4 separate regions of the Homo sapiens genome follow, and regions 1, 3 and 4 are each linked to region 2. The links come from fine-mapping of genetic effects on gene expression. A gene starts in region 2. Each other region holds a variant in brackets. All regions are shown on one strand. Distances are from middle to middle. Region 1 has its middle 22 kb from the start of LYPD3. Region 2 holds the start of ETHE1 (ETHE1 persulfide dioxygenase). Region 3 overlaps CD177 (CD177 molecule). Region 4 has its middle 18 kb from the start of PLAUR.

What was found.
Region 1: its variant is fine-mapped to the expression of ETHE1 in monocytes (TOPMed, PIP 0.95).
Region 3: its variant is fine-mapped to the expression of ETHE1 in whole blood (INTERVAL, PIP above 0.99).
Region 4: its variant is fine-mapped to the expression of ETHE1 in whole blood (TOPMed, PIP 0.95).

What each region holds. Positions count from the first base shown.
Region 1 is chr19:43,439,745-43,447,847 of GRCh38, reverse strand. No RefSeq gene overlaps it. Among named protein-coding and RNA genes, the nearest start is that of LYPD3, 22 kb to the left of the region's middle. The variant C/T (reference allele first, on the strand shown) is at 3,956.
Region 2 is chr19:43,523,062-43,531,164 of GRCh38, reverse strand. It overlaps ETHE1 (ETHE1 persulfide dioxygenase), which reads left to right and starts at 3,964. Exons shown (of 7, transcript NM_014297.5): 1 at 3,964-4,068; 2 at 4,506-4,650; 3 at 4,816-4,964. The coding sequence starts at 3,988. It also overlaps a transcript of ZNF575 not described here. RefSeq lists silencers at 1-10, 3,813-4,002, 5,353-5,512 and enhancers at 4,613-4,792, 4,308-4,812, 4,813-5,318.
Region 3 is chr19:43,359,155-43,367,257 of GRCh38, reverse strand. It overlaps CD177 (CD177 molecule), which reads right to left. Exons shown (of 9, transcript NM_020406.4): 6 at 6,853-6,993; 7 at 5,930-6,115; 8 at 5,679-5,813; 9 at 4,086-5,170. The coding sequence ends at 4,938. Among named protein-coding and RNA genes, the nearest start is that of CD177, 9.5 kb to the right of the region's middle. RefSeq lists an enhancer at 2,552-3,053. The variant G/C (reference allele first, on the strand shown) is at 3,116.
Region 4 is chr19:43,684,493-43,692,595 of GRCh38, reverse strand. It overlaps the pseudogene LOC105372412. Among named protein-coding and RNA genes, the nearest start is that of PLAUR, 18 kb to the right of the region's middle. The variant C/T (reference allele first, on the strand shown) is at 4,022.

The DNA.
Region 1 (8,103 bases), 83 kb after region 2:
GGAGGATCACTTGAGCCCATGAGTCTGCCCAGCTTGGGCAATATAGCGAGACCCCATCTCTGCTAAAATACAAAAATTAGCTGAGTGGTACGCACCTGTGGTCTCAGCTACTAGGGAGTTTGAGTGCTCACCTAGCAAGCTAAAGTGCAGTAAGATAATCCAGAATGCAAGTACCACTCTAGTGACAACCATCATCACTAGTGTCATCAAGGGCACTTCATATAAAAGTGCCAGTGTGCATCAGGGATAAGAGTGAGACAACATCCACTGGTTCACGGTGAACCGATGAAACAAGAACAACAATTAGGAATTTATTAGGATCAACAGGACTATCCTAAATATCAGCAGTAAATTAGCACATCACAAGAAACTCATGAACATGGGTTAACAAAATGAACCACTGATAAGCCAACTTTTCTGTGTCAAAAGGTGGGAGGTTCACTTGAGCCCAGGATGACGAGGCTGCAGAGAGCCGAGATTGCGCCACCGCACTCCAGCCTGGGTGACAGAGCAAGACCCTGCCTCAAAACAAACAAACAAAACAAGAACAGTGGCACCTTAACTGTTAATTATACGAGAAACTGGGAGCTCCTGTAGGGTTTTCACCCTGCAAGTCAGATTGGTGTTTTCCATGCGCCCTCTGGCGGCTTGGAGCAGCAATGTCAGCTAAGCATCAGCATCCAGCCCCTGGCTGGACTCTCGGAAAGTACTACTGCTATTTGGCGAATGCACTTGCACCAACATTCACCTAAATCTGCAGCAGACACAGGGACAAAGCTCTGTCTGGGTTTCCAGGACATCTTCTCAGAGGTCGTGATGGATAAGACCAGGAGCGGGATCTTAAATAACAAGGAGCACGTGCAGAGGCCTGAGCGAACATGCCTTGTGTCCGGAACTGGGTGCAGCAACCTGGGAGAGAGCAGGGAGATGAGGCTGGGGAATTAGGTCAGGCCCATTTGGGAAAGAACCTTGGCATTGGGACTTTGTGCTGTAAACCAGTTTGGAGATTGTGAACCATCAAGCTTCAAAGACAAAATTGGAGGGTCAAGCATTAAGGATGTCAACTTTTTATTTTGTTAGTAGGGTCTTAAAAAAACAACTATTCTTATTCATTCTAAAAGCTTTTAATGAACACCTACTGTGTGTTAGGGAATGTTCTGGGCAGGATCTGAGTCTGCATTGCTCACTATTGTATACCCTCAGAGTCTAGAGTCATGGAAAGGCCCCAAAAGAAGGGATGAATGAAATGAAAGATCATTGCTAAAGCAAGGTCAGGGTGGAGATGAACTGCCAGGGGTGAGTCCAAGCTGGGTGAGATTGTGGATGAGTTTGGAGACAGAAAAGAATAAAGGTGAAAGTGCTTAGTCCGGCCAGGCGTGTTGGCTCATGACTGTAATCCCAGCACTTTGGGAGGCTGAGGCAGGCAGATCATGAGGTCAGGATTTCGAGACCAGCATGGCCAACATGGTGAAACCCCACCTCTAATAAAAATACAAAAATTAGCCAGGCGTGGTGGCAGGTGCCTGTAATCCCAGCCCCTCGGGAGGCTGAGGCAAGATAATTGCTTGAACCCGGGAGGTGGAGGTTGCAGTAAGCCAAGATTGCCCCACTGCACTCCAGCCTGGTGACAGAGCAAGACTCTGTCTCAAAAAAAAAAAAAAGAGAAAGTGTTCAGTCCTTGAACTGTCAAAAGACAAAATCACAACAAATTTGCTTATAGATTCCCTCCCACCTCAGCCTCCCAAATAGCTGGGATTACAAGTATGCACCATCATGCCTGGCTAATTTTTATGTCTTTACAAAAGATACATGTTGGCCAGGCTGGTCTCGAACTACTGACCTCAAGTGATCCACCTGCCTTGGCCTCCCAAAGTGCTGGGATTACAGGCATGAGCCACTGTGCCCAGCCTGCTTAAAGATCTTAACTGGTTATTATTTGTGATTTTAGAATTGGGCAACATCGAATTATAAGAGACAGAATGAGTATTCTGATGAGTCGAGCAAAAGAGGTTGGTTTTATAGACAGAAAGGGCAGAGACTGCAGAAACAGAGAAGAAAAAGTGTATTGGCCATTTCAAAATTACTTTCCTTGTAAAGGTTAAAGGACAGGGGTTTCCTTATCATGCAGGCTAAAACTGGCCTGCTTGGGGACTTGGCTGTTATCTTTCACTCTCCTGATTTTTTGGAAGGTCAGGTAAAACAATTGAGTTTTGGCTTGGTGATGTGGAAGTTAGCACGAGTGACTCCATTTTGGTTTGGTCTGTTGGGCTTTGCACAGAAGCTTGGTCCAAACTAGTGGCCTCTGGTAAATTTCATTGAACAATATTATTATTAGTTTTTTTCTTTCTTGAAAGAGGGCCTCACTCTGTCACCCAGGTTGGAGTGCAGTGGCGTGATCATAGCTCACTGCAGTCTTGACCTCCCAGGCTCAAGCCATCTTCCCAGTTCAGCCTGGAGAGTAGCTGGGATTACAGGTGTGTGCCACCACACCTGTCTAATTTCTTGTAGAGATGGGGTCTCACTTTGTTGCCCAGGTTGGTCTTGAACTCCTGGGCTCAAGCAATTCTCCCACCTTGGCCTTCCAAAGCATTGGGATTACAGGCATGAGTCACCATGCCTGGCCAATAATGGTTAACTTTTGAAACACTCCAGTGGCTTCTCTTCTCATTTAGCGGAAGCACTGTGCCCTTGGCATGCCCACAGGGTCTGGCCCTGACCGCTGTGCTGGCCGCAACTTCTTGCACTAACCACTGCCTGCTCCGCTGCAGCCACGCAGGTCTCCTGGATGAGCCTTAGCCACAGAGACCCATTCCCTTCTCAGAACCTTTGCACTTCCTGTTCCTTCTGCCTGCAATGCCCATCCTGCATTTACCAACAGCTATGCGACAAACACTCATGGCACCAAGCACAGTTCTGAGCTGTGAGAGGAAAATAAATATTGGGGCCCCAAAATCACCAAAGCTAAAGGGAAAAGTCAAGCTGGGAACAGCTTAGGGTGAACCTGCCTCCCATTCTATTCAAAGTCACCGCTCTGCTCACTGAGATAAATGCATATCTCATTGCCCCATTTGGAGAGGCTAATCAGAAACTGAAAAGAATGCAACTACCAGCATGGTGGCTTATGCTTGTCATCCTAGCACTTTGGGAGTTCGAGGCGGATGGTTCACCTGAGGTCAGGGGTTCGAGACCAGCCTGGTCAACATAGCGACACCCCCGTCTCTACTAAAAATGCAAAAATTAGCCAGGCGTGGTGGTGGGTGCCTGTAATCCCAGTTACTCGGGAGGCTGAGACATGAGAATAGCTTGAACCCGGGAGGCGGAGGTTGCAGTGAGCCAAGATCTCACGATTGCACTCCAGCCTGGATGACAGAGTGAGACTCCGTCTCAACAACAACAACAGCAGCAGCAACAGCAACAACAACAACAAATTAGCCGGGCATGGTGGCACATGCCTGTAATCCCAGTTACTCTGGAGGCTGAGGCAGAAGAATCACTTGAACCCAGCAGGCAGAGGCTGCAGTGAGACAAGGTTGCGCCACTACGCTCCAGCCTAGGGCAACAGAGCAAGACTCTGTCTCAAAAAAAAAAAAAACAAAAAACAAAAAACAAAAAGAATGCAACTGGCTGGGCGCAGTGGCTCATGCCTGTTATCCCAGCACTTTGGGAGGCCGAGACTGGCGGATCACCTGAGGTCAGGAGTTCAAGACCAGCCTGGCCGACATGGCGAAACCCTTGCTCTACTAAAACATACAAAAATTAGCTGGGTGTGGTCGTGGGCACCTGGAATCCCAGCTACTTGGGAGACTGAGGCAGGAGAATCACTTGAACCCAGGAGGTGGAGGTTGCAGTGAGCCGAGATAGCACCACTGTACTCCAGCCTGGGTTACAGAGTGAGACTCCATTTCAAAAAAATGAATGCAACCACTTCTCTCTTATCTACCTATGATCTGGAAGC[C/T]CCCTCCTTTCTTCCAGTTTCCTGCCTTCACCTTGAGTTGTCCCACCTTTCTGGACTGAACCAATGTACATCTTACACCTACTGATTGATGTCTCATGTCTTCCTAAAAGGTATAAAACCAAGCTGTGCCCCTACCACCTTGGGCACGTGTCATCAGGACCTCCTGAGGCTGTGTCATGTGCGTGCATTCTCAACCTTGGTCTCCTAATTAACTTTCTGAATTAACTGAGACCTGTCTCAGATTTTCGGGGTTCACAGAGCAATTTATAAATCTTAACCCTGGTGATATGGTTTGGCTCTGTGTCCCCCCAAAACCTCATCTCAAATTGTAATCCCCACATGTGGAGGGAGGGACCTGGTGGGAGGTGATTCGATCTTGGGGGTGGTTCCCCCATGCAGTTCTCATGAGATCTGATGGTTTATAAGTGGCCGTTTCCCCTGCACTGTCTCTCCTGCCACCTTGTGAAGAAGGTGCTTGCTTCCCCTTCCCCTTCCGCCATGAGTGTAAGTTTCCTGAGGCTTCCTCAGCAATGTGGAACTGCAGGTCAATTAAACCTCTTTTGTTTATAAATTACCCAGTCTCAGGTAGTATCTTTTTTTTTGAGACAGAGTTTCCCTCTTGTTGCCCAGGCTGGAGTGCAGTAGTGCGATCTCGGCTCACAACCTCTGTCTCCTGGATTCAAGTGATTCTCCTGCCTCAGCCTCCTGAGTAGCTGATTACAGGTGCCTGCCACCATGCCTGACTTTTTTTTTTTTTTTGTATTTTTAGTAGAGACGGGTTTTCATCATGTTAGCCAGGCTGGTCTTGAACTCCTGACATCGGGTGATCTACCCACCTCAGCCTCCCAAAGAGTAGGGATTACAGGCATGAGCCACCTTGTCTGGCCAGTATCTTTATAGCAGGTAGTATCTTTATAGCAGTGTGAGAATGGACTAATACACCCTTTAATCTTTTCCTCACTTCCTTCAACACTAATGATTTTTGTGAACATTTATCTACTAACATATATTTAACATTATCTTTTTAAAAATTTTTTTGTGAGAGGGGGTCTTGCTCTGTCACCCAGCCTGGGGTGCAGTGGTGTGATCGCAGCTCATGGCAGCCTTGACCTCCTAGGCTTAGGCGATCCTTCTGCCTTAGTTTTCCAAGTAGCTGGGACCACAAGTGTGCACCACCATGCCTAGCTAATTTTTAGATTTTTTTTTTTTTTTTTTGAGACAGAGTCTCGCTCTGTCACCAGGCTGGAGTGCAGTGGTGCCATCTTGGCTCACTGCAACCTCTGCCTCCCAGGTTCAAACAATTCTCTTGCCTCAGCCTCCTGAGTAGCTGGGATTACAGGTGTATGCCACCATGCCTGGCTAATTTTTATATTCGTAGTAGAGATGGGGTTTCATTATATGTTGACCAGGCTGGTCTCAAATTCCTGACCTCAGGTGATCCACCTGCCTCAGCCTCCCAAAGTCCTGGAATTACAGGCGTGAGCCACCACACTCGGCCTTTTTAAATCACGTAAATAATACACAGACTTAATCCTGCTATAGAAATTCAAATGTAGAGTCAACCGTGAAAGTTTCCCTTGTCAAGATTCCCTGGCATCTCCTCTTCCATTCTACTTAGGACCTTGGAATGGGGAGATGCTGCATTTTGGAGGTAAAAATTCCAATAGTAAAGTGAAAGCTAGCATTTACTAAGCAGTCCCCATGACCCAGGCACATATGAACTTTTGAAGGTTATCAGAATCAAAATGGAGTCACTCATGTTAAAAAAAAGAAAAAGAAAAAAAAGCTCCGACCAACAGAGTGAAGGAAAGCCATGGAGAGAGGGTTCTCATACTTGTATGACTGATCACAAAAACTATCACAAAAAAACTGCAAAAAACACAATCTCACACAAAGACCATTGCAAACTTACACAGAAAAATACTTCTGCAAGGACGTTTGCCCAGCAACTGCCTGTCCAACCCCAGACTGGCATCATCTTTGTGATTCATTTTTCTAGCCAAAGATGATTATTTCAAAACCATTATGTAATTCTCCTCATTTTTTTTCTTTAAAAACCTTTGTCTTCTTTGACCTCCTTGAATATGTATAACACTCCTATTCCCATTGCAATTCTCTGTTCTTGAATAAACTTTTTTTTTTTTTTTGAGATGTAGTTTCACTCTTTCGCCCATGCTGGAGTGCAGTGGCATGAACTTGGCTCACTGCAACCTCCACCCCCCGGGTTCAACTGATTCTCCTGCCTTGGCCTCCCTAGCAGCTGGGATTACATGCACCTGCCATGATGCCTGGCTAATTTTTGTATTTTTAGTAGAGATGAGGCTTTGCCATGTTGGTCAGGTTCGTCTCGAACTCCTGACCTCAAGTGATCCACCCGCCTCGGCCTCCCAAAGTGCTAGGATTACAGACGTGAGCCACCTCGCCCAACCAATTTTTGTTTCTTTTAGAGAGCCTCTCGCTGTTTGTTATCTAGGTTGACAACTAATTTAATCACAATAAAATCCACACTCCAAGCTAGGAGTGGCCTGTGCCTGTAGTCTCAGCTACGTGGGAGGCTAAGACAGGAGAATAGCTTGAGCCCAGGAGGTTGAGGCTGCAGTGAGCCATGATTGTGCCACTATACTCCAGCCTGGGCGATAGAGCAAGACCCTGCCTTAAAAAAAAAAATGGCTGGACACGGTGGCTCACGCCTGTAATCTCAGCACTTTGGGAGGCTGAGGTGGGTGGAGTACTTGCGTTCAGGAGTTCGAGACCAGCCTGGGCAATATGGCAAAACCCTGTCTCTACTAAAAATACAAAAAATTAGCCGGGCATGGTGGTGCATGCCTGTAATCCCAGCTACTCTGGAGGCTGAGGCAGGAGAATCACTTGAACCCAGGAGATGGAGGTTGCAGTGAGCCAAGATCGCGCCACTGCACTCCAACCTGGGTGACAGAGCAAGACTCTGTCTCTAAACAAAAACATAAACAAACAAAAAACTTCCTAAATCCATTATCCCCATACTCTGATCTGTGCCTGCCTCTTAGATGCCGCCTCCTGCCATTCTGCCACTTGCCTCTTCTTGCCAGCCTTCTTTCCATTGCTCACACACACCAATCTCATGCCCGCTTCTACACCTTGGCACCACCATTCCCTCTGCTGGGAAAACCTCCCTCATGGTCTCTTCATTCACACGTGGCTGGGATGTCATCTCCTTTTGGTGGGCGTCCCTGACTACCTTATCGAAAGCAGTATCTCCTCTCCCCATCACAGCCTCCGTCCTTTAGTCAGTTGTGCTTCTCTTCAGAGCACTTACTTCTCTCTACCTGACTTCATATCGTAGATCTGTTTGCTTTTTATGCATATGGAACTTTCTCTTGGTCACTGTTTTGGTTTTTTACAGACAGGGTATTGCTCTGTTGCCCAGGCTGGAATGTAGTGGTGTGATCATAGCTCACTTCAGCCTCAATCTCCTGGGCTTAGGTGATCCTCTCACCTTGACCTCCCAAAGTGCTGGAACTATGGGCATGAGCTACCACCCCTGGCTAATTTTTAATTTTTTTTTTCTTCTTTTTGAGATGGAGTTTCGCTCTCGCCTCCAGGCTGGAGTGCATTGGCGCGATCTCGGCTCACCGCAACCTCGGCCTCCCAGGTTCTTAATTTTTTTTTTTTTTTTTTTTTTTAGAGATGGGGTCTTGCTATGTTACCCAGGCTGGCTTTCAATTCCTGGGCTCAATCAATCCTCCCACCTTGGCCTCCCAAAGTGCTGGGGTTACAGGCGTGAGCCATCATGCCTAGTCTGTCTTGGTCATTGTTGTCTCTTTCTCACACAGAGCAAGAGGAACCCCATAAACTGTTGTTTCCTGAATGATGGAACCATCTTGTTGGGTTAGACCTGCTCTTATCCCATTTTATAGATGAGAGATCTAAGGCTCAGGGAAGTTAAGTCACTCAGCTGACAGGTAATGGAGATGGGTTTCAAATCCAAGCAGGCTAGCTTCAGGATTTGGCTGAGCAGCTGCAGGTTTCTTGTATTGGTTAGTTACAATAATGCTGTGTAACAAACCACCCCAAAGCTCAGTAGCATGTTTTTTTAGCTTCTGAGTTTGTGGGTAGGGCATTTAGCTAGGCTTGGCTGGATGGTTCTTCTGGGTCATCTGTACCTTCTC
Region 2 (8,103 bases):
TGCCCGTCACCACGCCTGGCTAATTTTTTTTTTTTTTTTTGTATTTTTGGTAAAGATGGAGTTTCACCATGTTGGCCAGGCTGGTCTCAAACTCCTGACCTCAGGTGATCCGCCCACTTCGGCCTCCCATGGTGCTGGGATTTCAGGTGTGAGCCACCGCGCCCAACCTCTAGGGCCACAGCTATTTTCAAGAACCATGATTTTAAGAAGGCAGAGTAGAAGCCAGAAGACCAGTGAGGGTATTGTTATATATTAATTACAGTATTAATTGCTAGCACTTATTATACACTGGAAACTGTCCTTATGTGCATTAATTTATTTAATCCCCATAGCAATGTTTTAAGAGGAGGTGCTACTATCATCCTTGTACAGAGGAGGAAAATGAAGTGTGGAGGGGAAGGTCATCCCAGCCAGGAAGTATCAGAGCCAGGATTTGAATCCCTCAGCCTGGCCCTGCAGTCCAGGCAATTTGCATTTATGCTTTGCTGCCCCTTGAATGGGGCAGAGGGTGTGATAACAGAAAAGTGGCCTGGTTAAGATAGGTTAAATCTGGCTGGGCACGGTGGCTCGGCCCTGTAATCCCAGCACTTTGGGAGGCTGAGGCAGGTGGATTACTTGGGGTCAGGAGTTCCAGACCAGCCTGGCCAACATGGTGAAACCCCATCTTTACTAAAACTACAAAAATTAGCTGGGTGTGGTGGTGTGCACCTGTAATCCCAGCTACTTGGGAGGCTGGGGCAGAAGAATCTCTGGAACCCAGGAGGCGGAGGTTGCAGTGAGCTGAGATTGCACCACCGCACTCTAGCCTGGGCAACAGAGCAAGACTCCATCTCAAAAAAAAAAAAAAAAAAAAAGAGAGAGAGTTTAACTCAGCAGGGCCTGGAAGTGGGTGGAGGTGGCAAGGGTAGGAAGGAGTCAAGGATAGTGACAAAATAATGATGGGCAGTTCCCATTGAGAGCCTGTGCTATGTCAGGCTATTGAACTATTTTCAACCTCATTTTGTAGATAAGAAAACTGGAACCCAGAAGAAGATAAGTTTTCAGCCCAAGGTCCTACACCTGAGAAGGGTGAAGCCAAGTCTAACTCTTAGAACATCTCACAGCTGAGCCTATAAACCCTGCCTAGGGTGTGTCTTCAAAGGACACATAAATGGTCTAGAAATTCTGCAAAAACAACGGGAAAGGGTGCCAGGGGCGAGAAGTTCTTATTTGGGGGACCCTCTCAGTAAGGAGTGCCTGAGGGTCTTCCTTTCCCTGGCTCCTCCCTCCCCTGAGTTCCCCAAATCCCTACACCTCCCTGTGTCTCAGACCTGCTTTCCCTACCTCTCTCGCCTACCAGCCAGACTGAGTCACCTCTGGGTCCTCAGCTTTGTCTAGCTTGAGTCAGGCATGCATGAGACCTCATGCCTGGAATTTTTTTTTTTTTTGAGACGGAGTCTCGCTCTGTCGTCCAGGCTGGAGTGCAGTGGCACGATCCCGGCTCACTGCAAGCTCCGCCTCCCGGGTTCACGCCATTCTTCTGCCTCAGCCTCGAGAGTAGCTGGGACTACAGGCATCCGCCACCATGCCCGGCTAATTTTTTGTATTTTTTTTGAGTAGAGACGGGGTTTCACCGTGTTAGCCAGGATGGTCTCAATCTCCTGACCTCGTGATCCACCCGCCTTGGCCTCCCAAAGTGCTGGGATTACAGGCGTGAGCCACCGCACCTGGCCTTTTTTTTTTAGACACTCTCGCTCTGTTGCCCAGACAGGGTTTTGCTATGTTGCAGAGGTGCAATCTTGGATCACTGCAAACTCTGCAACCTCTGCCTCTTGGGTTCAAATGATTCTCATGCCTCAGCTTCCCAAGTAGCTGGGTCTACAGGCGTGCCCCACCACGCCCAGATAATTTTTTTGTATTTTATTTTATTTTTTTCAGTAGAGATGGGGTTTTACCATGTTGGCCAGGCTGTCTCAAACTCTTGACCTCAAGTGATCTGCCCACCTAGGCCTCCCAAAGTGCTCAAAGTGCCTGTGCATGAGCTCAGCCATATGCTTTTTTTTTTTTTTTTTTTTTTTTTTTGAGATGGAGTCTCCATCACCCAGGCTGGAATGCAGTGGCACGATCTCAGCTCACTGCAACCTCCACCTCCCGAGTTCAGGCAATTCTCCTGCCTCAGCCTCCTGAGTAGCTGGGATAACAGGTGTGCACCACCACACCCAGCTAATTTTTATATTTTTAGTAGAGATGGTGTTTCACCATGTTGGTCAGGCTGGTCTTGAACTCCTGACCTCGTGATCCGCCCGCCTCAGCCTCCCAAAGTGCTGGGATTACAGGCATGAGCCACCGCGCCCAGCCGGCCACATAAAATTTTAATGAAGCAATTTGATAGGCTTAAGGAAAAGCAGGCCTTCTCTGTGTAAAGGCATTCACACAGGGGCTGCTCTGAAAATAGCTCCAGGGACCATTCCCTGGAAACTCCAGAATTAAGATAAATGTTGTTGCAGGAAACCCCTCCTCAGAAGCTGTGGGACAGGATAACTCAGTGGTTCATACCTGTAATCCCAGCATTTTGGGAGGCCCAGGTGGGAGGACCATTTGAGGCCAGGAGCTGGAGACCAGCCTAGGCAACATAGCAAGACCCCTGTTTCTACAAAAAAAATTCTAACAATTAAAAAAAAAAAAAAAAGCTCTGCCCCTAGGCTGGAAATCAAGGCTGCTCTGATGTCACAAAGTGACATAGATCCTCCAGATGAGAGTGGGATGTCCTATTCTCACTACTGCTACGATTACAAAGAGCAGACTTTCTGACAGCTCATGACTTGAGACTACAGTTTTTCAGCCCCAGGTCCTTGGTGTAAATGAACACAAGCTCTTTTCAGAGGTTCACACCCCAACAGAAGATGAATAATCCCCAATCTGATTATTCAAGAGATAATGCAAAATTATCTTTTTTTTTTTTTTTAAGATTTCTTCCTGGAAAGAGAGAAACATTCCTGATAAAATGCTTATGCAATTTCTGGATGAACTTTAATGGGATCAAGTGTTGTTCTGGTAACCAGGCACCCACTCAAAAGTCCCTCAAGATATTAATGACCTGGAACCGAACGAATATCTTTTTTTTTTGAGACAGAGTCTCCCTCTGTCGCCCAGGCTGGAGTGCAGTGGCGTCATCTCTACTCACTGCAACCTCTGCCTCCCGGAACCGAACATCTTTTTCTAACCATGACTATCCTACCACCTGCTAGAAAACGGCCCCACGGGACGCGGTGGCTCACGTCTGTAATCCCAGCACTTTGGGAGGACAAGGTGGGAGGAACGCTTGAGCTCAGGAGTTCGAGATCAGCCTGGGCAACATAGTGAGAACTCCGTCTCTGCAAAAAACAAATTTTATATACATGTATGTGTGTGTGTGTGTGTATATATATATATGTATATAAATATATATATAGATATAAATATATATATATAAAATGTCGGGTGTGGTGGCAACGTGCCATAGTCCCAGCTACTCGGGAGGCTGAGGTTGGAGGATCGCTTGAACCCGGGAGTTTAAGGCTGTAGTAAGCTGAGATCGAGTCACTGCACTCAAGCCTGCGTGACAGAGCGAGACTCTGTCTCAAAATAAAACAAAAGAAAAAGGAAAAAAAACGGCCCCGAGGCTATGAGTGTACTGGGGCCTCTCCCTGGGTTTCTACTTCTCTCCCTATCTCTGTTCCTACATGAGTATGTCTGTGTGTCTCTGAGCGTCTGTCCCTCGCACTTTGAGTGTCTCCCTGTTCTCTGTTTTTTCTGGGTCTCAAAGCGTCCAGGCATTGCACTCTGGCTTTCCTCGGTCTCGCCCTCGCCCCAGTCCCGCTCGGCGGTCCCCCGCCCTCTGCCCCAGGCGTCCGTGGCCCCTTTAAGGCGTGCTCCGCCCCCGCCCCGCCCTTCCCGGGGTCAGTGCCGTAGCGCCCGGCTCCTGCAGGCGCTCGGCCTCCGCTCATTCCTGACCCCGCAGTGGGCGCGATGGCGGAGGCTGTACTGAGGGTCGCCCGGCGGCAGCTGAGCCAGCGCGGCGGGTCTGGAGCCCCCATCCTCCTGCGGCAGGTGCGGGTGGCTGGACCTAGGAGGGGACTGCTGGGCACTAGGCGGCAGCAAGGACGGAACTCCGGGGTCTCTTAATAGGGAGAGATCCGGGGGGACCCACGCCTGCATCTTGCGGAAAGCGGGGTGGAGGTTTAGGGCTGGACTCTTGGGTCCTTTAAAGGTGAGTGGTCTGGGGGCCTCTGGGCTTGGGGCCAGACCCCTGGGTCCTCTATGAAAGAACGTGCTGGGGACCCTGATTTTGGGATGTTAGGAAGTTGGAACTCTTTTGTTCTGATAGGGGAAGGTAGTGGGGCTCCGGACTCCCGACTCCCGGGGAAAGAGTGGGCTGGGGTTTCTGCTTCTGGATCTTAGGAAGAGGATAGGGTCAGTCTGGACTACTTGGCCTCCAGTGGGTGGAAGTCCGGTTCTGCGCCCTCACCTGGGTCCCCCGTTCCCAGATGTTCGAGCCTGTGAGCTGCACCTTCACGTACCTGCTGGGTGACAGAGAGTCCCGGGAGGCCGTTCTGATCGACCCAGTCCTGGAAACAGCGCCTCGGGATGCCCAGCTGATCAAGGAGCTGGGGCTGCGGCTGCTCTATGCTGGTCAGTCCGGGGACCAAACTCATGGATCCCAGCGGGGCTGGGCTGCAGCGTCAGTGGAATGGGAAGCTGGGGCCCAGAACTCCTGAGTCTGAGGGAGAAGGATCTGGGCTGGGACTCCCAGGTCCTTTCTGTACCCTCCGGACCTGTCCCTCCTCTCTCTCCCAGTGAATACCCACTGCCACGCGGACCACATTACAGGCTCGGGGCTGCTCCGTTCCCTCCTCCCTGGCTGCCAGTCTGTCATCTCCCGCCTTAGTGGGGCCCAGGCTGACTTACACATTGAGGATGGAGACTCCATCCGCTTCGGGCGCTTCGTGAGTTGGGTGCTGGGTCCCCAAGAGGGTGGTGGCCTGGACTTCTTAAACTTAAGGGAAGAGGGGACTGGGGGCCTGGGATCCTGAGTCCTTGGGGAGGAGGGACCTCAGGACCTGGGTTTCTGACCCCTGAGCTCATATTTCTGGGAGGGGGGCACCATAAACCCAGGTGGGGCACTGGGGCAAGAGGCTCTGGGCAGGTGGGGCACTGGCGGAACTCCTAAGTCAACAGCATTTAAGGAGTTTCCTTCCTAAAGCTTAGGGGCAGCCCTTTGGCCTGGCATGCATCTCCATAAAAGTTGATTAGGGGCTGGAATTCTGAGGGCAGGGCTGAGAAGGAAAGAGACCCAGTCCTGTCTTGCGGAAACCTCCGTTTGAGGAAGGAGCATCTGGGTGCTTAGAACCCGGAGCCCAGGACTAGGAAAAGGACGGTGAGGACCCTGGAGTGCAACATTTAAGGAGGCACTCGCTCTCAGGGTCCTGTAAGTGCAGGGTCCGCACCTGTGAGTGAGCGCCTCCTTAAATCTTGCACCAACAGCCTCACCCTAGTCCTAGCCCTGCCGTTGCCTCACACTGGGAAGTCTAAAGGTTCCTGCCTTCCTCACTTTATTTGCCACAGGCACCAGCGGGTTTCCGGCCAGAATTGCAACCAGGCCGAAGGAGGGAGGGCCAGGGGAGTTGCCCTCAGAGAGAGGGAAACAGCTGGCAGGGCATTCTTCTGATCAATTGCTAAAGATGTATAATAAAGTTTGGCTGACTTTGGGGACAGAATGTCAGGTGACAGAAGACAGCCTCCAGGTTAGAGAGTTTTGCCAAATAGGGACAGTTCATTTGAGTCAGAGTGTTTAGAGGAAATGAGGGCTGTGTGTGGGAAGAGAGTTCAGCTACAATGGTTACAGAAGCTTTATTTCAAGCCTTTCTCTGGAAGCAGGCAAAAATGCATTGTACATGTATGTACATTGTACATAATAGGTGCTAACAAACATGTCTTGAAATGAACGAAGGGTTTAGCTATGGTAGATTTAGCTTCAGTGTTTTTTTTTTTTCTTTCTTTCTTTCTTTCTTTTTTTTTTTTATTTGAGACTGGGTCTCTGTCACCTAGGCTGGAGTGCAGTCAGCCTTGACCTCCCAGGCTCAGGTGATCCTCCCACCTTAGCCTCCCTGGTAGCTGGGACCACAGGCATGCACCAGCACGCCTGGCTGATTTGTGTATGTTCTTGTAGAGACAGGGTTTTGTTATGTTGCCCAGGCTGGTCTTGAACTACTGGGCACAAGTGATCCTCCTACCTTGGCCTCCTAAAGTGCTAGGATTACAGGGCTTCTGAAAGTGCTGGGATTACAGGCATGAGCCACTGCACCCACCCTTTTTTGTTGTTGTTGTTTGTTTGTTTGTTTTTGAGAAAAGGTCTTGCTCTGTCACCCAGGCTGGAGTGCAATGGTGGGATCATAGCTTACTGCAGCCTTGACCTTCTGGGCTCAGGTGATCCTCATGCCTCAGCCTCCTAAGTAGCTGGGACTACAAGCACCTGCCACCATACCTGGCTAATTTTTTAATTTTTTGTTGAGCTGTAATCTCACTATGTTGCCCAGGCTTAATAGCTTTATTGATATAACCCACATACCATATAATTTATCTATTTCGAGTGCACAATTCAATGACTTTTAGTATATTCAGAGTTGTACATCCATTACTACCATTAATTGGAAAATGTTTCCATTACTCCAAAAAGACCCCACACCCCTTAGCCATCACCCCTATCCTTCCCTTTTCCCCCCTCAGCCTTAGGCAACTTTTTTTTTTTTTTTTTTTTAATTTGAGACAGGGTCTCACTTTGTTGCCCAAGCTAGAGTGCAGTGGTGCGATCTTGGTTTACTGCAACCTCCACCTCCCGGGTTCAAGTGATTCTCTTGTTTCAGCCTCCCAAATAGCAGGGATTACAGGCGTGCGCCACCAAGCCCAGCAAATTTTTTTGTTTTATTTATTTATTTATTTATTTGAGATGGAGTTTTGCTCTTGTTGCGCAGGCTGGAGTGCAATGGCGCTATCTCAGCTTAGCGCAACCTCAGCCTCCCGAGTAGCTGGGATTACAGGCATGCGCCACCATGCCTAGCTAATTTTGTATTTTTAGTAGAGACGGGGTTTCTCCGTATTGGTCAGGCTGGTCTCCAACTCCCTATCTCAGGTGATCCGCGCGCCCTGGCCTCCCAAAGTGTTGGGATTACAGGCATGAGCCACTGCGCCCAGGCACATTTTTATTTATTTTTTTGAGACAGTCTTGCTCTGTCACCCAGGCTGGAGTGCAATGGCAAGCTCTCAGTTCACTGCAGCCTCTGCCTCCTGAGCGCAAGCGATTCTGCTGTCTCAGCCTCCCAAATAGCTGGGATTCCAGGCATGTGCCACCATGTCTGGCTAATTTTTGTATTTTTAGTAGAGATAGGGTTTCACCATGTTGGCCAGGCTGGTCTCAAACTCCTGACCTCAGGTGATCTGCACACCTTGACCTCCCCAAAGTGCTGGGATTATAGGCGTGAGCCACCATGGCTGGCTTGTCTGAGATTTTGGAGATGGGGGTCCATTTTTCTCTCCTTTATTTTTCCTTCTACTTTAAAAAAATGAATTGTTAGCCTGGGTGTGGTGGCTCATGCCTGTAATTCCAGTACGTTGAGAGGCTGAGGTGGGCGGATCACTTGAGGTCAGAAGTTCGAGATCAGCCTGGCCAACATGGTGAAACCCTGTCTCTACTAAAAATACAAAAATTAAGCGGTATGGTGGTGAGGCACCTGTAATCCCAGCTACTCAGGAGGCTGAGGAGGCAGGAGGAGAATTGCTTGAATCCGGGAGGCAGAGGTTGCAGTGAGCCAAGATCGCACCACTGCACTCCAGCCTGGGTGACAAAGCGAGATTCCATCTCAACAAACAAACAAACAAACAAAACCGAGTTGTTAACATTCATGGAATGAAAGGAGTCCACATATTATACATGTGTATGAGTACTTACCCAGATCCCGATACAGAACTTGCCCATCACCCCAGAAGTCTTCCTTGCCTCCCTTTCTGGCCAATGACCGCCCTCCTAAGGCACCATTCTTCTGATGCATTTAACCACAGGCCGGTTTTGCCTGTTCTGACATTATAAAC
Region 3 (8,103 bases), 160 kb after region 2:
TTCCTGGGTGTCCAAGGCCACCTTGTCTCCAGGAGTGTAACCGTGTTTCCAGCCACTGAAAACTTGGATCAAAGCCCAAAGTAAACTTTCCCTTTTCTGGCTTTGAGGTGTGGTGTTTAAATTCAGAGACATTCTCCAGGAAAGCAGAAACTTCTTGGCTAAAATCCAAACCTAGGGAATTTATTGCAGAGATGGGGACGTGGTTCTCATTTCTGCCCATCTCAGAGTACAGATTAATTAACTCAGAAGATTCAAAAGATTATATTTTCCATATTCCTTGCTGAACATAATATTATACCCTTTTCTCTCCAGTTTTATGCTTCTTTTTTTCTTGGTGCTAAAGAAATTGTAAACCTTTGTCTTAAAACTGGAGTCCCTTCCAACTGCTAGTGACAGAAATCCCAGCAAGATAAGAAGGAGCAAATGTCCCTGCTTCCTAGACAACTTGAGATGTATACAGATCCTATTCAGCATCCTACAATGTTCTTGCTTGACGCCCACAAAAACCTTTCATCCTGTACGGGGAAATCAGACTTGACTAAACTCATACTGGCTTTGAAGAAGTAAAATCAGGATTGATAAATTCATATACGGTAAATATCAGAGAGGTAGAAAGTAAACAATAGGTGATACAGGGAATACCCACAAATTAGGAAAGCAACGGGCCATTTAAACCACAATAGAATTATAAAAGAAATGAAGCACAGGCTCACGCCAGTAATCCCAGCACTTTGGGAGGCCAAGGCAGGCAGATCACCTGAGGTCAGGAGTTTGAGACCAGCCTGGCCAACATGACAAAACCCCATCTCTACTAAAAATACAAAAAAATTGCCGGTCGTGGTGGCGGGTGCCTGTAATCCCAGCTACTCGGGAGGCTGACGCAGGAGAATCGCTTGAAGCTAGGAGGCGGAGGTTGCAGTGAGCAAAGATCACGCCACTGCACTCCAGCCTGGGTAACAGAGCGAGACTCCATCTCAAAAAAAAAAAAAAAAATAGAAAGAAAGAAATGAACCACAGCACTTCCCAGTACATTACTCCAGTTGGAATTGCAAAATATTATTCTCGATAACTCCTGGATGAGTATATTTAGAGTATATTTAGAAACGAAAAAATGTAAGAGAGTCTATGTTTCAAATCTAGTGCATTATTTTATGGAGATTTTCACAAGCTCCAAAAGATTAACAGTGCAGAGCTGGAGGTTCTAGAGAAATTCCGCGCCTCCTCCTGCAGGTAACTCTGACCATTCGGAAAGCAGCTCTTGGCTCATCCCTGGGCCAAGTGCAATCAAGTTCAGGGCCGGGTGCTCTCTGAGCTACCAAACCATAACCTGGGGCATGCACAGCAGCCTCCAGCATCCACGGGACAGCTGAGCATGGGGTCAGGCTCAAGCAGGTCTGAGGCCAGCAAGTGACTCAGGCTCCCATGGCACCTGTCCTTCTGCCCCTCCCTCTACCACATCTGTGAGCTCCTGGGAAGCCCTGTGACCTCATACAGAGGAGGAAAGTGCAGACCAGGCTTATGGATGGGTCCTCACGGTGAGCTGGCGCCCAGCAGAAGTGGACGGCGGCTGCCTTAGTGCCCACTTCAGGTGGTCCTGAGGAGTGATGAAGGGAAATCCTTCAGATGGGCAGAACCTCAGGGGTTCTGCAAGGAGGGATGGACTTGGGTCCATTGCATGAACCCAGAGCGGGCCACATGGTCAAGGACTTGAAGAGAATAAAAGAGTAAACTTAAGACAGGGAGGACACATGGATGTTCCTCTGGGGATGGGCACAAAGTGTGAGCTATGCCGTCCCCACCCTTAAGCCCAGAACCTGTGCTGTGGGGATGAGGTTCTTGGTGTTTGGTGGATGGTGTCAGGCAGACTCTGTCCCTCAGAGCTTGTTCAGGGGGTCCAGGTGCAGATGGCCACATGGATAGGGAGGACGGCGACATACCTTACCACAAGTGGACTGAGTCTCCCAGCACTGGCCTGGCTGCACACTGTATCCAGCCCTGCCCAGTGTAGGCAGAGCCCGGGGCTAAGCCCCTGGAAGGCGTCATTTTACAGGAGGACTACCCGGCCACTGCAGATAGGCTGGCCACACAGGACACGTCCCATCCTGGAGGGGACTGGGCTTTGTCCTCACACGGATACGCACACACTGGGGGTTCCAGTTGGCCTTCCCTGGACCCTGCTCAGTGCTTCTGTGAACAGCGCCTTTCCTGTGGCTCTGGAACCCATGCAGGGTTGCTTCCACTGGGGACACGTGTTAACGCAAAGAATGGGGGGTAATTAACTCACACCCATGGAACCCACTGACCGTCTCAGGTGCCCCTCTATACAGACACAGCTGCTTCTCAGATTGGCGCAATGGCTCATGTGTGGCTTATCAGGGCACCGGGAGGGAGACCGTACCCCACCACCCACAGGAGGGGCCACACATCTTATAAACCAGCAACCAGGCTATCGGGTCACGCGCCCCAGGGCCAGATGCAAAGATCCAGGAAAGACAGGAAGAATAAGCGCGGCTCCCTCCCGTGACTGCACCTGCCAGCCCACTGAGAGAATGCTTGCTCTTTGTCCCCGTGGCCCTGGGCTGCTGTGGATGAGGAATCTCTTCCTAGTTCTGATCTGCAGGAAGCCATGACAGCCCTCCAGCCATCCTGTGCCCCTTGTGCTGCCAAAACAGCAGGCAAAGGAGACGTCACTCTGCAGTCGGGGGAATGGCATCTGATTACAGAGGGAGGTCGGGTGGCTGGGACAAGGAGGCTATTTTCGAAGGCAGGCAACTCATGGCGGTAACATTTCCTTGGCCAGGGCCCTGTTCCATGGAAAACTACAGAAACCCACTAAAGACAAGGCCATCCAAGACTCACTCTCCATAAGAATCAAGATTTGGGTTACACTGCAGGTAACAAATAACATCCAAAGGAGGTTTTGGAAGTGGGAAGACAATGTGGAATGTACTGGAAGAAAGCAGCTCTAAGCACCAGCAGCCCCGCCCCCAGGACCTCAGCAGCTGTATTGGAAGCCATCTCCTCCCCATCTTTCTCTCATTGTGGGTGAAGAACTGGTGCCCAGCACAATGGGAGGAGGACATCACTGTCACCATCACACACTGTTACTGTGACA[G/C]AGGGAAGGACTGGAATTGTGTGTCATCTGTACGGAGGACTCTGATTTATTTTTCCCCCTTGAGACAGGGTCTTGCTCTGTCGCCCAGGCTGGAGTGCAGTGGTGCAGTCTTGGCTCACTGCAGCCTTGACCTCCTGGACTCAGCCTTCTGAGTAGCTGGGACCAGTAGAGGGAGGGGGCGCACACCACCACACCCGGCTTATTTTTTGTATTTTTTTGTAGAGAAGCGGTTTCACTATGTTGCCCAGGCTGGTCTCAAACTCCTGGGCTCAAGTGATCCTCCCACCTCGGCTTCCCAAAGTGCTGGCATTATAGGCGTGAGCCACCGAGCCCGTCCTGGACTTTGATTTTCATTTGGACAAAGGGAAAGGGTGGATGCCGAGGGGCAAGGGAGTGAACGGTACTAGACGTGTTCTGTTTCCTTCTCCAGATTCGCTCTCTTCTCCTCTTCCCTCTCCTCTCCTCTGTTCTGTAGTGTGAATGGCAGATCTATGGGGGCTGGACCAGTGGAGTCTCCTGCTTCTGTGGCCTCTAGGGGGTTCAGTCAATGGGGAACCTCAACTGGAGACCAGAGTGAGGACATCAGTTTGGAATTTTAGTTCCCCACTTCCCTCCCCAGTATCATTGTGGGCTGGACGCGTTTTTCAGCCTGAGATGGGAGCTCTTGTTAGGCAACCCTCTCTGAATATCTCTCTCTTTCTGTCTCCGGCTCTCTCTCCAGCTCTCTCTGTCTCTTTCTGTCTATGTCTCTCTCTCTCTCTCTCTCTCTGTCTGCAGATTCCAGCAGTGGCTCTTCTCCTCACCCTTTTTGGGCTATGGTGGTAAGAGAGACCCAATGATAACAGCTCTGGGAAAATGCTAACCCATTTTTTTCTGGAGTTCTCTCAAGCCCTCATGTCAATTATCCCACGATACGCAGATGCTACATAGCAACGTTTGGGTCAGCGACGAATTGCGTATAGAACGGTGGTCTGCTGAGATGACAATAGTGTATTTATGCTGTACCTTTTCTATGTTTAGATGTGTGTAGATGCACAAATACTTGCCGTGGTGTTAAGATTGCCTGCAGTATTCACACCATAACATGCACTGCAGGCTTGTAGCCTAGGAGCAGTCGACTCTAGCGTCCATCCTGGGTGTGTATTGGGCTGTACCATCTGGGTTGGTGTAAGTGCACGCTACAATGTTCCTATGGTCATAAAATCACCTAACGACACATTTCTAACGACACGTCCCTGTCGTTAAGCAATGCATGACTGTACTAACCTCTCCTGCAGTTGCTCAGATGGGGCGAGCCTCCTGTTTGTGCTAGGGCCCTGGCTGCTAGGCTGGAAGCCTCATACGTCTCAGTGCATCTTCCCCTCCCAGGTCATGGTGATGCCCAAATACGTTTGGCTGGAGCACCCTGAAGTCTCTGCTACCATCCAAGCTGGTTTGGAGACGTGAACCAGACCAATGAAGGGCAGGCTTTAGATGGTCATTTTCTCATTAGGCTCCTCTCCTCCCCCACGCTAGATCCCTGGGTGTCCTGCTGCCCCCTCACATGGAGAAATCCCAGCACTGGGAGAAAGGACAGGGTCTGTATTATCAGATACATGCAGCCACTCCTCCAGCGTCCCCTCTCCCATAGGGCAAGTCCGGATGCTCCAGGCTCTCCCCAGTGTTGCTGTTAGGTGAGTAGATATGAATGATTGTGTGTGGGGAAGATGATTCATGGACAGAATGGGAAAGAATCTGGTGTCCAAGGCCATTAGGTTATGAGGTCAGAGGGAGGTTGAGTGTGGGTGGTCAGCAGCGGTGAAGAATCGTGGGGGTAATAGAGTTAGCAGGAAGGGCAAACCACTCCCCACCACAGCGCTGGGGCCAGTGCCAGCCCCACCCCCCAAGTGAGAGACTCCAGGCCCTCAGCCCCACCTCCCTCATGCTGAGAGGCAGGAGGCTGCACATCACGCTTCTCACGCGCAGAGAAGATCCCGATTTGTCTGGTGTGGTTCAACAAGAAGCTGGAAGGTTGGGCCACGCAGCCCTGAATGCTCATTTTGGTGGACAGCCCACCTAGAGGGAGAAGACCAAGTCAGAAAGGACACAGAGTACAGCCCAGCCAAGTTGTAAACCCAGGAGTCCAGGCCCCAGACCCTCCTCCCTCAGACCGAGGAGCCCAGACCCCCAGCTCCAGCTCCTCAGACCCAGGGGTCCAGGCCCCCAGCCCCTCCTCCCTCAGACCCAGGAGTCCAGGCCCCCAGTCCCTCCTACCTCAGACCCAGGAGTCCAGAGCCTCAGCTCCTCAGACCCAGGAGCCCCGGCCCCCAGCCCCTCCTCCCTCAGACCAGGAGTCCAGGCACCCAGCCCCTCCTCCCTGGGACCAGGAGCCCAGGCCCCCAGCGCCTCCTCCCTCAGACCAGGAGTCCAGGCCCCCAGCCCCTCCTCCCTCGGACCAGGAGTCCAGGCCCCCAGCGCCTCCTCCCTCGGACCAGGAGTCCAGGCCCCCAGCCCCTCCTCCCTCAGACCCAGGAGTCCAGGCCACCAGTGCCTTCATCCTTGGGGCCCTGCTTGCAGCACTCACCTCCTGAGAGATGAATGTACCCATCATAACAATGAGTGGCGCCCCTGGGGCAGGTCATTCGGGGGGAGCCACTTGAACAGGTTCCAAGGGGCTGCACACAGGTAGGACACTGCCGGTCTCCTGGGACAGGGGCAGCTGGGGAGCAGAGGGAAGGTGGGGGTACATGACTTTGTGCTCAGAGCAGCTGGCCACCTTGGGCCAGAGTCTCTGTGTGTCTGGGCCTCATTTCTCCACGGCCCTGGATCCCATACCTTGAGGAGGGAGGGAGTTCAGCAGAACGCTGCTGCTGCTGGCACTATTGCACAGGTCCGAGGAGCAGAAGTGGGTATAGGAGGCCACAAGCACCCCAGGAGGGGCTGAGTGGATGGTGGTCTTCTGGGAATTTTGAGCCCCAACAGTGCTGCAGCCTTTTGTCCCCACCAGGGTTGATGTGAGTCCTGAGGGTGAGAGGGAAAGCTGGGCTGGGGACTGGGCAGCTCCCAGGGCAGCAGGGGCTCCAGAGCTGGACTCCCTGCCCTTCACAATACCCCCCAGGCAGAGGGTGAATGCCCTGATCACAACTGCTGGGTCATGTTTAGTGTGGGGCAAAGACGGAGGCTGGGGCCTGGGTCCTGCCCGAAGCTCTGCCTCCTCCCAGTTCTCGCTCAAAGGTCACCTTCTCCATGAGTCTCCCCTGAGCACTGAGCTTAAAATTGCAGCCTTCCCCTCACTTTTCCTATCTCCTTTTCCTTGCCAGATTTCTCTGCAGAGCTGGGATCTCCATTCCCCATACTTTGCTGCTTTTTGTTTGTTTGTTTCCTGTTTCTCAAGGCATATAAAGCTGCAGGAATACAGATGGGATTGGATCTGCGGCACCTAAAACAAATGCTGGATAAACATTTCCAGAATGTATGAAGCCACTGAGAGTCCTCGGTGTTGGCACGGTTCTCCACCCTGGGCAGGGATTACCGCATACGTGGTCACCCCTCCCCAGAAAGGCAGACACTGTCATTCCCACTGCTTCACCCCCAGTTTTCATAAGGGGAACCCAAGATGCAGAGAGAAGAAGAGTCGGATTGAAAATTGCAGATGTGAAGGGAGCTGAGCAGGAAATTCAGGGGAAAGAATCCAGTGGGGTGGAGGGAGCTGCCAGGGACTTGGGACAGGTGTTCGTCTTCTACCTCAGTCCACGTACCTACATCTAGGAGCAGCAGCGTCTCCTGACACACCTGCCCCACCTCGCACATCTCGGTATTCGATGTGGTCCAATCAGTGGGTTCTTGAGCCAAGTTTCCGTGTGTCATAATGGTGGTCCCCCGATGACAGGTCAGAAAATCTGGGGAGAGGAATCCCAGGGTGTGTGTAAGCCAGGAACCCACCATGTCTGTCCCTCCACGTCCTGGGCTAGGGAAGGTGATCACACTCTTGAGTCACACTCCAGGTGACCTGGCCACAGATTCCCTTAACCAAGGATTCAGAAGGGACTTGGGAGTCGAAATCCCACCCCCATTGTTCCCTGTTTCTGCTTGAACACCCGCAGGGACGTCCTCTCACAGCCCTGGGGGAACGGCCGTTCCTTGCTTTAGCTGTGAGAGCAATGGAAGCTCTTCCTTATCCTCATCCCATCTCTGCTTCCCCATCTGAGCTTTAAGGTCCTCATTTCAATAATAAGGAAGGCAGCCTGAGACCTTTCTCATACCTTTCAGTTGCAAAGCCCTATGTTCCAAACAAGATGCGAAGGGCCAGGGTGGGCTGAGCACTGCCGCTGAGCACTGCCTCTGCACCTGGCTGACCTCATTGCTTCCCACAGATCCACCCATCTAAGGTTCCAGGGAACACAGCTTATCTGGGATGCCTCATTTCCCCACAGCACCCCAGCAGTAGGTGGTGTGATCACAATCAACACCCTCATTTGCAACAAGGGAAACAGAGGCAGGATTGCTCAGTAGCTGCCCATGCCACACAGCTTGTGAGTGGCAGAGGTAGGCTGGGAACCCAGGGACTCTGGACCCTCAGGGTCGGGGTTGGGAGCAGGAGGGAGACAGGTACTGAAGACCATCCTCGGCTACCTTGGCCCCGAGGCCCTCAAGGCTCTAGTGTGAAACCACAGCCCCTGGCCTCCCCTCACGGCCATCACAGAGCAGGGGGGATCGGTCCCATGATGCAGGGACTCTTAGACTGAGCCCCCAGCTTCCACCAACACATGCGACCTGCAGAACCGATGCCACCCTGGAGGGCTGCTCATTTGCATACTTCACAGATGACAAAATCAAAATCATGGCTCCTGCTCCCTTCTCCCACCCTTCTCTCCCCACTCCCATCTCCCCTACTTACACCCGTGGCGGCTCGTTTCTGCCAGTCTAGCTGAACACATTGGTGTTGTCCTTGACCACGCTCTTTCTCTCCCACATTGTGTTCCTCAAGTAATCCTACTGGCTTGAGCTGC
Region 4 (8,103 bases), 160 kb before region 2:
ATGTTCTGCTTCTGAGTGTGTCAGGTGGTGTGTGTGTGTGTATGGGTAACTGTACTCATTGGGAGCATTATCGTAGGAAATGTGGACACCCTGGGAACACATAGGTTTGAAAAGAGCATAGGGGATCCAGGGAGGTAAGAAAGGTTGGGTTTTTAGGAAGGCAGGGGTCAAAGCACCTGGATGTGTAGGAGTAAGGCAGTTGCATTCAGGCTTAGCGGTGAGATGAAATCCAGAGTCTTCTGGACCCAGGGTGGCATTCTCATGTAAGTTGCAGACCTCTGGTGTAGCACAGCCCTTCAGAATTTGGGGACCCCCTGTGGAAATGAGATGAGATTGCAACAAGAGGCTCAGAGTCCAAGCCTTCCAACTTGATGTCTATCTTTCGCTATCTGAAAGTTGCCATCTTAGTAGTTCTATATGATTCAGTTTCAAATCTACCTGGTCAGTTTTTACAACCTCTTGTTGCCTGCTCACATTTGTGATTCTAAGTTTATTCCTTCAGACATATCACGTGCCGGTACGCTATGTTCTACAGCTGATAATTACAATAGCTGAGCTCCTCACAGGTCTGTATCTGTGATTTGTTATTTCTGCTATCACTCATGGTGGCTTGTTTCCTTGTGCGTTTCATGAACTATGATTGTGAGCTCATATTTGGTTGATATTCATCTGTGGGAATCCTGGGAGCTTTTCCCTGGGAAGGAATTGCTTTTGATTCTACTGAGTGCCAGGAGGTGCTACTGACCAGGGATCATTTTGGCTTCTGTCCGAGGTCCCTTGCTTATGTGGGAATCTAAATTCCAGAAGCATGCTGCCAGCCCAAGACCTGTTTACCTAAAGCAGGTTATTATCAGCATTTGCTCCCAGGCCACCATGCCTTCCATGTTTTCTCACTGCTCCCATTATGATTTCTGTTCACATTTTTGTTTTGCTTAGGGACACGTGGACATTTTCTTAACTTTCTGCAACCCCAAAAAGTGTGGAAAAATATTTCTGTACAGGATCTTGTTTATCTGTAAACAGTGGCATACCAAGCAGGGGAAGGGAGTGGGAGCAGTCCAGCCTGGGAACAGGCTACAAGGGGCTTAGTGTCTATAGAGAATTTTTTTTTTTTGAGACAGAGTCTCACTCTGTCACCCAGGCTGGAGTGCAGTGGCACAATCTCGGCTCACTCCTACCTGAGCCTCCCAAGTAGCTGAGATTACAGGTGTGTGCCACCATACTCAGGTAATTTTTGTATTTTTAACAGAGATGGGGTTTCACCATGTTGGCCAGGCTGGTCTCGAACTCCTGTGCTCAAGTGATCCACCCGCCTCAGTTTCCCAAAGTGCTGGGATCACAGGCATGAACCACCGTGCCCAGCCTATAGAGAATTTTTTTAAATCATAAAACCAACTAAAAATCAGTTTGCTTTTTATTATCACCAGGTAGTACCAGCAATTCTAAGCAATGTCAGTGATAAACTGCTCCTCCCAACCATGATGGGCCACTTCCTCTATTTCACTGTCTCAGTCCTCCACCTTCCCAGTGTGCCACTGTTTGGAGCAGAAGACCTTTTAGAGGATTGAGTCCACCATACTGCCAAAAGCAGAAGCCCAGGCTACTGCTCTCGATCCTTTGATTGGCTTCATAATTAGTCTATCCTCTGGCTACTGTGGTTATATTATAAATCTTTTGCTGAAAAGGCCTCTCCTCCAACTGTTTGCAAATCATACTGGTGATTTAAAAATACCTTTGCAAATCTATGACACATCAACAGGTGGGGTCCATGCCTCTTTCATCTTGAAACCAGATGGAACTTTTGTGACCATTTTGATCAATAAAGCAGAATAGAAGTTACATTATGTGACTTCCAAGGCTGAGACATAAAGACCAAGCAGCTGTAACTTTGTTTGCTGAATGAAATCGTTAGCCACCATGTAAAGAGCCTTGAGGTAGCCATGATGGGAGGAAGCTCAATCTAACCGATGTGGAGAGGCCACATAGAAAGGCCTGTGCTTACATATATGCAAGAGATGCTCAGAAAGCCCCTGGTTGTTCCTGCCCCAGCAGTTCCAGCTCTTAACACCCTCTGACTACAACATACGAGAGACTCAGAACTCTCCAGAGGAGCTCTTCCTGAATTCCCAAACCAAAGAAACTGGAAGAGATCATTAAATGATTGTCATTTTTAGCCACCCACCTTGTGAGTGATTTGGGGTTTTTTTGTTTTTGTTTTTGTTTTCGAGATGGGAACTTGCTATGTAGCCCAGGTTGGTCTTGAACTCCTGGGCTCAAGTAATCCTCCCACCTTAGCCCCCCAAAGTACTGGGATTACAGGTGTGAGCCACTGCTCCTGGCCTGTGGGTGATTTGTTAAATGGCAATACATAACCAGGACGCACGTGCAAATGAAGCTCAAGCCTTATTTGTGCAGGTGGGAAGAAACCTGCCACAAAAATCACCTCCTGTGAAGGGGCCCTTACCTCTACTCCAGGTCCCGTGGAGGGTGACACATGCAGTCTGTTTCCCAGTGCAGTTCATGGAGCCGACTTATTCCTGGAACAGTAGTGACATTTCACAGTGTTGGGCTTGGCCTTGGGCCCTGCCTCTGGTGGGAGTGGACAAAGTCAGGGCGGGGTGGGGGCTGAGGAACACCCCTACAGCCATCCTTCCTCACTAGGCCTCTGTTCTCCTGCCCTCCCTCTCTCACTGCCTCTACTCCCACAATCCAGATCATTTCCCTCCAAAGTGATTCTGCGCCTGGCCCCAGAATAAGTTTTCAGGGGCTGCAAGGAGTGTTTGAGACCGAGGCTGGGCACAATGGCTTATGCCTATAATCCCAGCACTTTGGGAGGCCGAGGCAGGTGGAAGACTTGAGCCCAGGAGTTCCAGACCAGCCTGGGCAACATGGCGAAACTCCATCTCTACAAAATGCAAAAAAAATTAGCCAGTCATGGTGGCACATGTCTGTAGCCATGGTACTCAGGAGGCTGAGGTGTGAGGATTGCTCAAGCCCAGGAGGTGAAGGTTGCAGTGAGCCAAGATTGTACCACTGCACTCCAGCCTGGGCGACAGAGCAAGACTGTCTAAAAAAAAAATTAATGCAGTTATAATCATACCTGACATTTTATATACTGAATAGCATGCCCACCTCGTAACTTGAACCTGGGGGTTTTATTTTGCTGAGAGACACAATTTAGGAGGGCAATTAGACACAAATTAGGAGGAGGGAAATCGCACTTGTTTGAAAGGATGGCTACCTCTCCCCATTGCTACATCTGCCAAGTACAAATTCCTTCTTAGAAGAAATAACCAAGCAACGAAAAGTGATCTTTGTCACCACCCAGGGCCAGATCTAGGGTGAAACCAGGGGCCCAAAATTTAAGGAGGCACGACTTTTCAGGGTTGTGCAAGTAGAGGGCTATCCCCTCAGCGTGAGCATCTCCTTAAATTTTGCACCCTGGGGCTGTGCATGAGGGCTCACACTTGTAATCCCAGAACTTTGGGAGGCCAAAGTGGGTGTATTGCTTGAGGCCAGGAGTTGGAGACCAGCCTGGTCAACGTGGGGAAACCCCATATCTGCTAAAAATACAAAAAAAATCAGCCTGGTGTGGTAGCATGTGCTTGTAATCCCAGCTACTCAGGTGGCTGAGGGAGGAGAATTGCTTGAACCCAGGAGGCAGAGGTTGTAGCGAGCCAAGATCGCACCACTGCACTCCAGCCTGGGTGACAGAGTGAGACTCTGTCAAAAAAAATAAAAATAAAAAATAAAGAATAAACATTTTTGCATCCTGGGCTCCTGGCTGGGCTCCCCTAGACCTGGGCCTATCACCACTTGTGAGGTTTCTTGTTCTGTTTGACTAGCCTTCAAGGGGAGCCCCTCTATTAAAGACAAAAAGAGAGGCGGGGCACAGAGATTCATGCCTGTAATCCCAGCACTTTGAGAGGCCCAGGCGGGCAGGTCACTGAAGGTCAAGAGTTTGAGACCAGACTGGCCAGCATGGCGAAACCCTGACTCTACTAAAAATACAAAAATTAGC[C/T]GGACGTGGTTGTGTACATCTGTAATCCCAGCTACTCGTGAGGCTGAGCCACGAGAATCGTTTGAACCAGGAGGTGGAGGTTGCAGTAGGCCAAGATTGCGCCATTGTACTCCAGCCTGGGCAACAGAGTGAGACTCTGTCTCAAAAAGAGAGAGAGAGAGAGAGAGAGACAGAGAAACAGAAAAGAGCTTGGAGTTCTCTTTAGCCTCCCAGTATTCAAATAAACATGGCAACAAAAGGAGTGTCTACCACGTGCCAGCCTAGGGGATGAACACCCTTTAAAACCTACATCACACCCATTTTCCAGATGAGAAAACTGAGAGTCTCCTTCTTGCCCCAATCAGCCAGACAAAAAGCTGTGAGGCAGGAAATTGAGGCTGGGTCCCCATGACACCCTACCCTGGTGTGTGAGCCTGAGGTCCTCCCAACAAACCTTACTGGGGAAGGTGGCTGCAGTTGTTTTCACAAGAGGCTGTGCTGACCCAGAGGCTTGCATGGGGGCTGTAGGTCAGGGCGTAGACACCTTCTTAGCATTCTCCAGGGGCCACACATGACCCCTTCTCAATGAGAGTCCCATTTTCTAGGGATAGAGTTTGAGGAAGGGAGATTAGGGCCCCTGCTTTCCAAGCCCTCCAGGACCTCTGCCCACTCTATAGCCATCCCCCTGGCCAATCCAGGGCCTCTTTTGCTGTTCAGCTGCCCTCTGCCCTTTACCCCAGTAGCACCAGGCTGAGCTATGAGGCAGGGCTGGCAATCTCCAGTCCCAGGATGGCTCATCCATGCCCCCCTTCCACCCACTGCCTTTGTCCATTCTCTCCACCCAGCCCCTGTCCAGTCCCCAGCCCGGTCCCCCACCCAGCTGCATCTGGCTAAACAAGCAGAAGTCCTGGGCAGAAGGACAAGTTATTTCAATGCAGGTTCACAGCAAAGAGCAGGCTGGACATGTCTTAGAGCTTCCTGCAAGGAAGAAAACAGTGATCAGACTCTGCAGTTTGAGAAGGACAAAGAACACACACACACACACACACACACACACACACACACGATTCAAGAATAGGACTAATCAGGCATGGTGGCTCATGCCTGTAATCCCAGCTATTTAGGAAGCTGAGGATGACTTGAGCCCAAAAGTTCAGGCTGCAGTGAGCTAAGATTGCACGACTGCACTCCAGCCTGGGCAACAGAGTGAGATCCTGTCTCAAAAAAAAAAAAAAAAAAAAAGAATAGGACTAAGGGCTGAGGTGGGAGGGCCATTGGGAGATCAGCAACCTTCTTTGTTGTGAGGAGTGCGAATGGCATTCCAAGTCGATGAAACAACGCAGACAAAGGTTTGGAGATGAGAATCACAGAATCTCTAAGTGGGAGCTGCTGGGTTTAGGGTTTCAATTCAAGATCGCACAGTGAGGTCCTGGCTAGGATCCAAACCACTTAATTCCCAACTCAGGCAAAGGTGGCAGAATTAGAGCCAAAGGGGAGACAGGCAGGTGAGGTAAAAGAGTAACAGTAACTGCTCCTGGATAATCCAGCAGAGCTCACCCTCAAACAGAGCCACTGCCAGGCTGGCACTGTTCTGAGCTCCTCAAACGTGTGGATTCAACCAATGTCTCAACAACTGTCTGAGGCAGGGGCATTGTCACCACTTCACACATGGAAAAAATGAGGCACAGAGAGGTTATGTGGTTTGTCTGGAGTCACACGGCTAAGAAGTGACAGAGTCAGGATTTGAACCCAGGCAGCCTGGTTCCAGAACTAGGTTCTCAGCTGCCCTGTTCTTCTGCCTGCTAGACAATGAGCCCAGTTGGAAGGACCTGGGGCCCAGACTCTGAAGCCAGACTCCCAACACCACATGTGACCTTGAGCCGACCCTCTCCCTTTCTGATGGACCATGACGCGCTTACCTGCTGGGGCAGCCAGTGCTCCCAGGAGCAACAGGGCAGAGAGAGCCAGAGCATGATCCAGGCAGGAGAGAAGGAAGCAGGACACAGGTGCCCTTGCCTTTTATTCAAGGGCCTTGGCCAGGGTAGCAGCCCCGGAAGAGGGAGAGCAAATAGGCCGGGAAGATAGCGGTGCCACCCACCATCCTGGCCACTGGGACACCCAGCAAGAGAGGGGACTGAGAGAGCATCGAGATGGGGAAACTAAGTCCTGAGAGGCATGTGGGGAAAGCCTGGGACTACTCAGTGAGGCCAGAGAAGGACAGGGGGACATGTTGTTATTATTATTATTACTATTAATAGGTTGTGGCCAGGTGCAGGGGCTCGTACCTGTAATCCCAGCACTTTGTGAGGCCAAGGTGGGAGGATCGCTTGAGCCTAGGAGTTAAAGACCAGCCTGAACAACATAGTGAGACCCAGCGTCTTAAAAAAATTTAAAAATTAGACAGGTGGGCCAGTCGCCGTGGCTCATACCTGGAATCTTAGCACTTCGGGAGGCCAAGATGGGCAGATCACTTGAGGCCAGGAGTTCGAGACCAGCCTGGCCAACATGGTGAGACCCTGTCTCTACTAAAAAAAAAAAAAAAAAAAAAAAAATTAGCCGGGCGTGGTGGCACGCACGCCTGTAATCCCAGCTACTCGGGAGGCTGAGGCAGGAGAATCACTTGAACCTGGGAGGCGGAGGTTGCAGTGAGCCGACATCACACCACTGCACTCCAGCCTGGGCAACAGAGCGAGACTCTGTCTCCAAAAAAAAAGGCATTTGAAGCCCCAAATCTTTCTCTCTCAGGCCTTATCTACTGGTTCTTAACCCTTCTCTTTCTTTCTTTTCTGATGTCTTTCCCCACTAACACCCCTTTCCTTTCTGCTTCACAACCTCAACCTATAAAAACTTATCCCCTTAAGACCAGGCTGTCTAACGACACTGAGGTCCTCAGATTTCTTATGTCTCTGGAACTAAAGCTGAACTCTGTGCTATATCCAAGGCATTTCCTGAGGTTACTGAAGAGCCCCATCATTTTGCCGATAAATCTAACTTCACAGTTCAGGCTTACCCATCCAGCTTCTCTGATCTTTACCAACTTGTTTTGCACCCTTGCGGGAGAAGGCCAGGCCCAACACTGGATGGCAAAAGCCAATTAGGGCCTGGCGCGGTGGCTCACGACTGTAATCCCAGCACATTGGGAAGCCGAGGCAGGCAGATCACAAGGTCAAGAGATCAAGACCATCCTGGCCAACACGGTGAAACCCTGTCTCTACTAAAAATACAAAAAATTAGCTGGGCGTGGTGGTGCATGCCTGTAGTCCCAGCTACTCGGGAGGCTGAGGCAGGAGAATAGAATTGCTAGAACCCGGGAGGCGGAGGTTTCAGTGAGCCGGGATCACACCACTGCACTCCAGCCCAGTGACAGAGCAAGACTCCGTCTCAAAAAAAAAAAAAAAGTTAGCCTGGTGTGGTGGCACATGCCTATAATCCCAGCTACTCAGGAGGCTGAGGCACAAGGATCTCTTTAACCTGGGAGGCAGAGGTTGCAGTGAGCCAAGATTACACCACTGCACTCCAGCCTGGGCGACAGAGTGGGACTGTGTCTCAAAATAAAAAATAAAAATAAAAATAAAAATTAGCCAGGCGTGGTGGTGCACACCTACAGTCCCAGCTACTAGGGAGGCTGAGGTGGGAGAATCGCCTGAGCCCAGGAATTCAAGGTTGCAGTGAGCTATGATGTCACCACTGCACTCCAGCTTTGGTGACAGTGAGACTCTCCTCTAAAAAAGAAATAATAATAATAATATAAAATAATAATGGGTTGCCTCATCACTCATTACACACATTAGCTCACTAAATCCTTACAGTAGTCCTACCAGCCATTATCATTAACCCCACCCACGGAGGATACTCAAAATATTTGACCACCTGTCAATACAGGCCAGGGTATTGGTAGTAACAATCCTGCCCACTTGCTAGAGTAGCAGCCTGTTGGCCTCCAGGGACCCGGTCTTTCCCTCATCTTTCTAGAATATGAAGATGTCTGGGAGGACCCAGAGATGCCATCAGGGCACTCAAGGCCTCCAGGCAGGGGAATTTTATCAACCAAATCTGGACATACCTCAATATTTTAACAACCAGTACAACTGAAATCAGCCCTG